Homo sapiens: one gene and its partners. Changing the gene in region 1 together with any one later gene gives a genetic interaction. Each region holds a gene or a part of one and is shown on either strand. Other genes may lie near its edges.

Evidence for each region.
Region 2: changes in CDK12 (region 1) and ACVRL1 together harm fitness more than expected from each alone (negative genetic interaction), as found in Homo sapiens cells (one large-scale study listed by BioGRID).
Region 3: changes in CDK12 (region 1) and TIMM23B together harm fitness less than expected from each alone (positive genetic interaction), as found in Homo sapiens cells (one large-scale study listed by BioGRID).

Annotation. Positions count from the first base shown.
Region 1 is NC_000017.11:39,464,413-39,468,062, reverse strand, and holds part of CDK12 (cyclin-dependent kinase 12), read right to left. Parts: intron 1-3,650. UniProt on the Homo sapiens protein: Cyclin-dependent kinase that phosphorylates the C-terminal domain (CTD) of the large subunit of RNA polymerase II (POLR2A), thereby acting as a key regulator of transcription elongation.
Region 2 is NC_000012.12:51,920,683-51,924,011, reverse strand, and holds the end of ACVRL1 (activin receptor type-1-like isoform 1 precursor), read right to left. Parts: intron 3,254-3,329; coding exon 3,119-3,253; 3' UTR 651-3,118; downstream 1-650. UniProt on the Homo sapiens protein: Type I receptor for TGF-beta family ligands BMP9/GDF2 and BMP10 and important regulator of normal blood vessel development. On ligand binding, forms a receptor complex consisting of two type II and two type I transmembrane serine/threonine kinases.
Region 3 is NC_000010.11:49,969,524-49,973,173, reverse strand, and holds part of TIMM23B (mitochondrial import inner membrane translocase subunit Tim23B), read right to left. Parts: intron 3,133-3,650; exon of another isoform or gene 2,716-3,132; intron 163-2,715; coding exon 110-162; 3' UTR 1-109. UniProt on the Homo sapiens protein: May participate in the translocation of transit peptide-containing proteins across the mitochondrial inner membrane. the PAM complex.

The DNA of each region.
Region 1 (3,650 bases):
AATTAGCCGGGCATGGTGGTGTGCGCCTGTAATCCCAGCTGCTCGGGAGGCTAAGGCAGGAGAATTGCTTGAACCCGGGAGGCGGAGGTTGCAGTAAGCCAAGATCACGCCACTGCACTCCAGCCTGGGTGACAGAGAGACACTCCATCTCAAAAAAAAAAACAAAACTAAAAATATTGTTGGAATCAATAGGACTAAAAAACAACAACGCAAACATGAACATGAGAATATAAAATACTGAAAGGTACTGATATTGACCAAATATGCACTTACCCTTAAGAAAACTAACATTCCTTCTGTACATATTTGGCTGAAACAAGAGTTTTTCTCTGCTTGAAATACAGCTAAGTAACATCTCTATCCCAGGGAAAACATGTAAAACCCAAAACACTAATGCCAGCTAGCTACCAAGTACTACTGTTTTAGTCAGCATGACCAAATCTTCCTAAGGAAGTCTGTTAGAAACCCTTCAATTTCTCACAGAAGCCTACTGTTAACAGATTTGGATGGCCATATACTTGTGGTATTTTTAGTGATACAAATGCTACATTTAAGTTCCAGGTTCACTCTTCTAGAAAAAAGCGGAGGAGTAGACAACAAATAGGTAAACACAGCCAGCAATAAGCAATGTGTCTTCAAGAAATGTCTTCAAAAACAAATGTATTTCCCCCCCACTCACCGAATTAAGTTAGGTTCCACTCAACTATTAATCATTGCTAATCTAGCGGATGCAAAGACACTGCATTTCTGCCAAAGCATTTTCAGTCTTTTAAAATTAGGTTGTTTCGCCGGGCATGGTGGCTCATGCCTGTAATCCCAGCGCTTTGGGAGGCTGAGGCAGGCAGATCCTGAGGTCAAGAGATCAAGACCATCCTGGCCAACATGGTGAAACCCCGTCTCTACTAAAAATACAAAAATTAGCTGGGCATGGTGACGCGCGCCTGTAGTCCCAGCTACTTGGGAGGCTGAGGCAGGAGAATCGCTTGAACCTGGGAGGCGGAGGTTGCAGTGAGCTGAGATCGCACCACTGCACTCCAGCCTGGCGACAGAAACTCTGTCTCAAATTAAAAAAATAAAATAAAATAAAATAAAATAAAATGTTGCTTATTTCATTTTGACTGTCTCCCAAGGAAAAAAACACAAGAGAATATCATAGAAGGGATCTATATGTTCCTCTGACTCTACAAAATTTTTGTACTGTTTAGAATTTCAATCAATGAAGAAAAACATGTAATGCACACATACAAACATATAATGCTCTCTATAAGCCAACTAAAAGCGTGCATGTGTCTCTGGGAATATTATATGTTTATATTTGCATGCTACGCTACCATATTGTGTCTCCAATTTTTTCTAAACTTATTTTTACCATTACTGACTAAATTATGTGAGTAGAGATTCATCTGCTTTTTTTTTTTTTTTTTTTTTTTTTTTTTTTTTTTTTTTTCAGATAGAGTTTCACTCTTGTTGCCCAGGATGGAGTGCAATTATTGCAATCGCGGCTCACCTCAACCTCCTCCTCCTGGGTTCAAGCAATTCTCCTGCCTCAGCCTCCCAAGTAGCTGGGATTACAGGCATGTGACACCACGCCCAGCTAATTTTGTATTTTTAGTAGAGAAAGGGTTTCTCCATGTTGGTCAGGCTGGTCTCGAACTCCCGACCTCAGGTGATCCGCCTGCCTCAGCCTCCCAAAGTGCTAGGATTACAGGCGTGATCCACTGCGCCTGGCCTTTTTCTTTCTTTTTTTTTTTTTTTGAGACGCAGTCTCATTCTGTCGCCCAGGCTGGAGTGCAGTGGCGTGACTTTGGCTCACTATAACCTCTGCCTCCCAGGTTCAAGCGATTCTCCTGCCTCAGCCTCCCGAGTAGCTGGGATTATAGGTGCATGCCACCACGCCTGGCTAATTTTTGTATTTTTAGTAGGGACGGGGTTTCACCACGCTGGCCAGGCTGGTCTCAAACTCCTGACCTCAGGAGATCTGCCCGCCTTGGCCTCCCAAAGTGCTTGGGATTATAGGCATAAGCCACCACGCCCAGCCTCCTCTACTCTCTTAAGAGAACATGAGATATGCTGTTTTACCTAAGAATCCAAAAGGAATCACTAGAAAGAAGCACTTCTTACTGAAACTCCTTTTAGTGTTTTAGTCTTAGCACACTCTTCTCTATTCCCATACCCTAAAGTTAACAATTTTTACAGCCTTAATGAACTACTCTATCAAGAAACAAATATCCTAAGAATACTTTTTAGACTTCCTTAAAACACTAAGCAGCATGGCTGTGCGCATTGGCTCACGCCTGTAATCCCAGCACTTTAGGAGGCCGAGGCTGGCGGATCACCTGAGGTCAGGAGTTGGAGACCAACCTGGCCAACATGGTAAAGCCCTGTCTCTACTAAAAAAACACAAAAATTAGCCAGATGTGATGGTGGGCGCTTGTAATTCCAGCTACTCTCAGGAGGCTGAGGCAGGAGAATAGCTTGAACCCGAGAGGCAGAGGTTGCAGTGAACCGAGATCGCTCCACTGCACTCCAGCCTGGGCAACAAAACAAGACTCTGTCTCAAAAAAAAACAAAAAACAAAGCAGCTTTACAAATGCTACACTTAAGACTTAGGCATTTTACTGTATATAAATTTTACTCCTCACCCCTCCAAAAAAAAAAAAAGGGTAATCCAGCTAATGGTAAACATGTTAAAGTGTTTAGAATGAAGTATACTGATGTCTACAACTTACTTTGAAATAAATGAAAATAAAAGATAGATTAATGGACAGGTAGATAGATTACAAAATACATGGCTTTTTTTTTTTTTTTTTTAAGACTGAGTCTTACTCTGTCTCTGTCACCTAGGCTGGAGTGCAATGGCACGATCTCAGCTCACTGCAACCTCTGCCTCCCGGGCTCAACTGATTCTCCTGCCTCAGCCTTCCGAGTAGCTGGGACTACAGGCGCACGCCACCACACCCAACTAATTTTTTATATTTTTATAGAGACAGCATTTCACCACATTGGCCACGCTGGTCTCAAACTCCCTACCTCGTGATCCGCCCACCTCGGCCTCCCAAAGTGCTGAGATTACAGGTGTGAGCCACTCCTGGCCCAATTTTTTTTTTTTTTGAGACAGGGTCTCACTCTGTTGCTCAGGCTGGAGTGCAGTGGTGTGATCACAGCTCACTGCAGCCTTGACTTCCTAGGCTCAAGCAATCCTCCCACCTCAGCCTCCCAGGCAGTGGGGACTACAGATGTGCACCACCGCGACCAGCTAATTTTTTTTTTTTTCCTGTAGAGAACGGGGCCTCACTATGTTGCCCAGCCTGGATACAGCAAATATTTATTGTAGAATCTTGCTGTTACATATATGGGTGTTCACTACAACCTTTCTGTGCTGGAAAATTTTTTATAATAAAATGGAGGAGGAAACATTAAGAACTCCAGCCCTTGACAGCTAGGAACACTCTGCAGCTTGATGTACTCACACCATTTATGAATTGTAACTTTAAGTCAGCAAAAATTACACTGAAATACAAAAGCCATGCATGAGCCAGGCGTGGTGGCTCATGCCTGTAATCCCAGCACTTTGGGAGGCAGGAGGATTGCTTGAGCTCAGGAGTTCAAGACCATCCTGGGCAACAGGGCAAAACCCAGTCTCTACAAAA
Region 2 (3,329 bases), on another chromosome or scaffold:
AGGACCCTCTCAGCTTCTTTTAGTATCTGCCTCCCCCACAGCATGTCCCCGCCCCGAATTTCCGGGTGTGAGAATGGGATGTGTGTGTGAAGTGCCTTCTGATCCCAGGACAAGGTAGGTCCCCAGGGAAGGGGATCTTCCCATGCTGGGAATGGGGACTGACTCCTGGCAAGATGGGGACCCCATTTGAGAAGGGAAGTGAGAACAAGGAATTGAGGAGGGAGGGTCCAAGCTGCCGGTTCGGAAGCAGAACGCTCTTCGCTAGGTGTGGTATTAGGGGGACAGTCCCTGCAGAACAGCAAGTCAGTGAGCACACAGACGTTGGCCCCCGGGTGCGGGGAAGGCTGCCCCACCCTGCCGGGAAAGGCCCCGCGGTCCCTGTGTGGGGATGGGAGGCGGCCGCTGGGCAGCCCTCGGCCAGCAGAGGGCGACGTGGCAGGTGCGGCGACTAGGCTGCTCCCAATCTGGGGTAGGAACTGAGATTTGGGCCCCCGCGGGGGTCTGAGCAGGGGCGTGAGGAAACTGTGACCTGTCTAAGGGCAAAGCTGGGCGTGTATCCTGGGACCCTCTTCTCCCCGGATCCCTCTGGTTTTATCTGGACCTCTGCGACGGGCCACTGCAGAGGCATCGGCCTGGGAAGACTCCGGAGCTCAGGATTTAACCATGGTTTATTGCAGACCTATTGTGTGCCAGGCATGAGCCCAGTGCTCCCACAAACAGCGTCTCCAGGTACGAGAAGTGTAATTTCGACCCTGGAACACCTTCCTGCACTCAGACAGAAGCATGTGCAGACTGCTCTCAGCAACGCCACCTCCTTCACTCCCTGGCCATTGGGCCCCCTTCTCTCTACCTGTCCCCTGTCACTCCACTTCCTGCCCCAGGCCTTCTCTTAGGGATTTTCCAGGCTTTGGGGAGCTGCTGCTTTCAGTTTCTGGCTGTGGGGTCTCAGCAGGAGTTTGTTCCAAAACCCAGTAGAAATAAAATCCTTCAAGAGGGAGATGATTCGTGGGCTGGGTGGATTCCAGTGACCAGAGGACGTGCAAACTCTGCCCTAATGATCTGGGAACCTAGCCCATCCATTGAGCTTTCTGTTTTCACCCAGTTTCACTTCCTGGTTCTCTTCCGAGCCTTGCACAATGCTGGGAGACAGGCCTAGAAAAGTGCCACCATGAGGATGGTGGAAGACACACATAAGATGCCGGCCTGGGGAGGCTACTCTGGGTCATTACAGCAGGAGCGGGGAGAGCTTTCTTCACTGCCCTGCCCCTAGGCTGAGGACGACTAAGGCCAGGTCTTCCCAACCTTGGGGCTGTCCTTGTCCATAGCCTGAGTCTCCACCCCCGCTCCTTATATTCCTCAAGCTCCCCTCCAATCCACTTCCCTGCAGCCCACTTCCCTGCACCCAGGGACCAGGACAACCTGCTCCATACGTGAGCATACATACATCCTTGAAATTTCCAAATGCCAAACTTTCTGTGTGTCTCTCTAGAGCCATTGAATTCTCCTGAGACACACTCTCTGGGCCTGGCCAGGGGTGTGGGCCTGAGCCAGGGGCCAGTAGGGGAGCTGGAGCCTTCTTGGATGGAGCCAAATTTCTTTTGAGCCTTGGAAGCCTTGGAGGAAGCCGCCCTGCAGTCCTGGGGCAGAGAAGACTATGCCACAGAGAGGGCGAGGGGCTGGCTTGTGGTCAAAAGGCCCAGAGCTGTCTGAGCCCAAGGGTGGCCACTGGCATGGTTTTAGGCAAGAACTGGAGCTTGCAGACTTAGACTAGGAGGTGCTCCAGACACTCCTTGAGTCAGGTAAAGTTATTTTCAAACCCCCATCTTGAGGCAAATTGCCAGGGGCTGGAGCATAAGGAATAGATGAGACTGAAGAAGTTAGCTGTGATATAGGCTGAAGTGTCAGAGAACTAGAGCTAAAGAAGCCTCAAAGGACATCAGGACCAAATCTTCCAATATGTAGATAAGAAACAAAGGTCCTGGCCAGGCGCGATGGCTCACACCTGTAACCCCAGCACTTTGGGAGGCTGAGGTAGGTGGAACACCTGAGGTCAGGAGTTCGAGACCAGCATGGCCAGCATGGTGAAACCCTGTTTCTACTAAATATACAAAATTAGCCAGGCATGGTGGCATGTGCCTGTAATCCCAGCTACTCGGGAGTCTGAGGCAAGAGAATGATTTGAACCTGGGAGGTAGACGTTGCGGTGAGCTGGGATCATGCCATTGCACTCTAGCCTGGACAACAAGAGCGAAACTCCGTGTCAAAAAAAAAAAGAAGGAAAAAAGAAAAGAAAAGGTCCTGAGACAGGCCTGCTTTTGTCACATGGAGCAAACATCCGGGGTCAGACCTGGGTCTCTTGACACCCACTGACCTTCCCCCTGCCATGCTTGGCCTCGATATCCTCTCAGTTAATCTGAAAGTCCTGGGCCTTGCCCATCTGACCTGCCCTTTTTCCACTGGCCTGTGATCCTGCCACACCTCAGTAGGACCTCTTAGGATTTAATGCCCTAGTAAGTCAGGCCCCAGCTCTCTCAGGCAGCTGACATTCAGCAAGCTGCACTCTTGTTGAGGAGACAGAAAGCCCAAGGCATCATGGAGCTGAGATACAAATCCACAGAGAGAAACTGATGGGCCCTGGCTCTCTGGAGCTTATGCTAGAGGCTGAGGCCTGGCAGGGAAGTGTGTGCCAGGGGCTGGACAGGGCCCTGTGCCACCCTGGCAGCTCTGGTGGGGCAGTGGGGTTGATCAAGGGCAGGGGGCAAAGTGCAGGCCCGGGCTCTGAGTCTGGGACTGGGATTCCCTGGCTTGGCACTCTGACTCTGGAGCCTCTTTTGCATCCTGTCCCGGGAGTGGTAGGGGGTGCACCATGCTGGCCATAGGGGTGGGGAGAGAGCCAGGCGTCAGGGAGCCTGCCGCTTTGAGCAGGCCAGACAGCAGGGGATCAGGTTTCAGCCCAGCTGTATTTTTGGCTGGGTGGGCTGGGGGCCGAGCAGGCAGGCGCAGCTGCCCATCCCCAGCACACACCACACTCACACTACCTCTACCCAGATAGGGCACCATCCACTGCCCCCCACCCCCCCAGCCCCCTGCAGGCAGAAAGGAATCAGGTGCTCCTGGGCTATTGAATCACTTTAGGCTTCTCTGGACTGTTGCTAATTTTTTGTAGTGTCTTCTTGATCCGCAGCGCGGTGAGTCGGGCAGAGGGGTTTGGGTACCAGCACTCCCGCATCATCTGAGCTAGGCCTGAGAGGACCTGGGGGTTGGGAGAGAGGTGCAGAGGAGAGGAGGCAGAGAGAGAGATGCAGAGAAGAGGAGGGGGTCGGGAGAGA
Region 3 (3,650 bases), on another chromosome or scaffold:
GAGGTGGTTAAAATGTCAGAGGTACACTTACTAATACTTTGCTGCCTTTTGTGTAGCTTCTTCTCAGTACTTCACCAGTTGGGATTGACACACACCTCTACAGCTGGGTTCAGGAGCCAGACAGCAGCACACAGAACGGGGAATCCAAAGCCATCTCTGACACTAAAAGCAATGAAAACAAAAATAACCAAACATATTATCAAGAAATGAACAAGAGATTGATATCAAGTAAAGCAAGAAGAGAAGAAAGCATTTAATCTGCCAGGCTTTCATTCTGACAAAATAATTTACAACATGCATGTCTCTATCTGACATGAGTGAATAGAAAAAGAACCCAAATACCCAGTTGAATTGCAAGATGAAAATGAAAAAGAACTCTTGCTTATTCGCCAGGGTACAATCTAATCTGGGCTACTAAAACACTTTCATGCACTGATTCTATGTAACACATGCTTTATTGCCATTTGGAAATGGGATTTCTTGCTTTGATTTAAATATACTTCCTTGGATTTGTGCTTTAAGTATACTTTCTTAAACATATTCACAGCTACATTCTCAGTACAAATTTTCAGGTGTAAGTAACTACTTCTGCTTTTGATAGTATAATTGGTGAAATAAGCTATACTTCCATGTAAATGTGAGAGTACAAGGTAAGATTCCAGAGTCAAGTAAAACATAACAGTCAAGAAAATAAAAAGGTGAGAGTAACTGGGCAGTGGGGAAATCTTGTGTGTGGAAAGAATGAATCTGTAAAACTGTTCTTTCCTAAGAGAGTTCAGCAGGATTTGGATGATAGAGAGCTTTGTGTACAAGGGTTCCAGTTCCACATAGTTTAGGTCTAATTTCAAAGGCAACTTCTAGTGCAACCTGTGACTCACGCTGTCCTAAAGTGCCGAATGTAAAGGGTCTGGAGATAACCCACAAGCAGCACTGTGAACCCCTGACAGCAAGCCTTTCCAGATAAATACCTGTCAGTGTCTACAGCTGATGACAGAGCAGAATATCTGAAAAATAATACTTCTTCGGCCAGTGGACTGCCAGTCACTATTATTTAGTGTAAAATACTATATTACATATGTGTAATTTTTTAAATTGCAGTGTTTCACATCGAAGCAATTAAATATAAAAACCAAATGTTTATTCAGCTTAAAGGCAACTTAGAAATACTGATCCCAGATAGAAAGATGCTTTAGTCCCAAGTCAGCTGTTCTAAAATGCCACAACTAAACCAACGAAGGGATCTTGAAGCATAGTAAGTGTTCATACCTTTTCAGCTATACCTCTGCTTGTCTTGAATATAAAAACCTAAGCTGCAGTTATGCCACAGCACAGAATGTGTTATATTTTACATCACTGAGCCTTAGTTTTACAAATGGTAAAAAATAGGGAAGGTAAACTGAGGTTTTCTTAAGGAGCTGTTACATCCAAGAGACTCATGAAAATCTTTGCCAAATGTCCCCGGTACATAGCTCCTCCCCACTGATGGGCTCAACGGGGAGAAGCTATGCACATGTCTCAATTTGCATATGCTCAATGGCAATACAGGATTCCTAGGATAAAGTAAGGGATATAAATGACACAGCACACTGAAAAGACTGTAATGTTACTTCAGAATGTTGCAAAATAAAGATCACAGATGAAAGTTTTAGTTCACTGAAGCATGTAGTCATGTATATTTCATTTGTGTGTTTTAAAGTCTTATACTGCTTACATTCTCTTTTTTTGTTTGTTTTAAAATAATTATATTTGGCTACAAAGATCAATAACAAGGATGATGTCAGTCCAGGTTGGACAGGCAGTTCTGGGGCAGATGTTCTTGCAGTATTTTTTTTTTTTTTTTTTAGTATTTATTGATCATTCTTGGGTGTTTCTCGGAGAAGGGGATTTGGCAGGGTCATAGGACAATAGTGGAGGGAAGGTCAGCAGATAAACATGTGAACAAGGGTCTCTGGTTTTCCTAGGCAGAGGACCCTGCGGCCTTCCGCAGTTTTTGTGTCCCTGGGTACTTGAGATTAGGGAGCGGTGATGACTCTCAAGGAGCATGCTGCCTTCAAGCATCTGTTTAACAAAGCACATCTTGCACCGCTCTTAATCCATTTAACCCTGAGTGGACACAGCACATGTTTCAGAGAGCACCGGGTTGGGGGTAAGGTCATAGATCAACAGCATCCCAAGGCAGAAGAATTTTTCTTAGTACAGAACGAAATGGAGTCTCCTATGTCTACTTCCCTCCACACAGACACAGCAACAATCCGATTTCTCTATCTTTTCCCCACATTTCCCCCTTTTCTATTCAACAAAACCGCCATCGTCATCATGGCCCATTCTCAATGAGCTGTTGGGTACACCTCCCAGATGGGGTGGCGGCCGGGCAGAGGGGCTCCTCACTTCCCAGAAGGGGTGGCCGGGCAGAGGCGCCCCCCACCTCCCAGACGGGGCGGCAGCCGGGCAGAGGCGCCCCCCACCTCCCTCCCGGATGGGGTGGCTGGCGGGGCAGGGGCTGCCCCCCACCTCCCTCCCGGACGGGGCAGCTGGCCGGGCGGGGGCTGCCCCCCCACCTCCCGGACGGGGCGGCTGCCGGGCGGAGGGGCTCCTCACTTCTCAGAAGGGGCAGCTGCTGGGCGGCGGGGCTCCTCACTTCTCAGACAGGGCAGCTGCCAGGCGGAGGGGCTCCTCACTTCTCAGACAGGGCGGCTGGGCAGAGACGCTCCTCACCTCCCAGACGGGGTCGCGGCCAGGCAGAGGCGCTCCTCACATCCCAGACGGGGCGGCGGGGCAGAGGCGCTCCCCTCATCTCAGACGATGGGTGGCCGGGCCGAGACGCTCCTCACTTCCTAGACGGGATGGCAGCCGGGAAAAGGCGCTCCTCACTTCCCAGACTGGGCAGCCCGGGCAGAGGGGCTCCTCACATCCCAGACGATGGGCGGCCAGGCAGAGACGCTCCTCACTTCCCAGACGGGGTGGCAGCCGGGCAGAGGCTGCAATCTCGGCACTTTGGGAGGCCAAGGCAGGCGGCTGGGAGGTGGAGGTTGTAGCTAGCCGAGATCACGCCACTGCACTCCAGCCTGGGCAACATTGAGCACTGAGTGAACGAGACTCCATCTGCAATCCCGGCACCTCGGGAGGCCGAGGCTGGCAGATCACTCGCGGTTAGGAGCTGGAGACCAGCCCGGCCAACATGGCGAAACCCCGTCTCCACCAAAAAAAATACAAAAACCAGTCAGGCGTGGCGGCGTGCACCTGCAATCGCAGGCACTCAGCAGGCTGAGGCAGGAGAATCAGGCAGGGAGGGTGCAGTGAGCCGAGATGGCAGCAGTACAGTCCAGCTTCGGCTCGGCATCAGAGGGAGACCATGGAAAGAGAGGGAGAGGGAGACCGTGGGGAGAGGGAGAGGGAGACCGTGGGGAGAGGGAGAGTGAGAGGGAGAGCCAGAATTTTCTTTTTAAAGGCAGAATAATATTCTATGTATATACCACATTTTTCTTTTTTTGAGACAGGGTCACCTAGGCTGGAGTGCAGTGGCATGATCACGGCTCACTGCAGCCTTGACCTCCCCAAGCTCAAGTGATCTTCCCACCTCAGCCTCGGGAGTAGCATGTACCACCATGCTTAGCTCATTTTTTGTATTTTTAGTAGCTATGTTGTCCAGG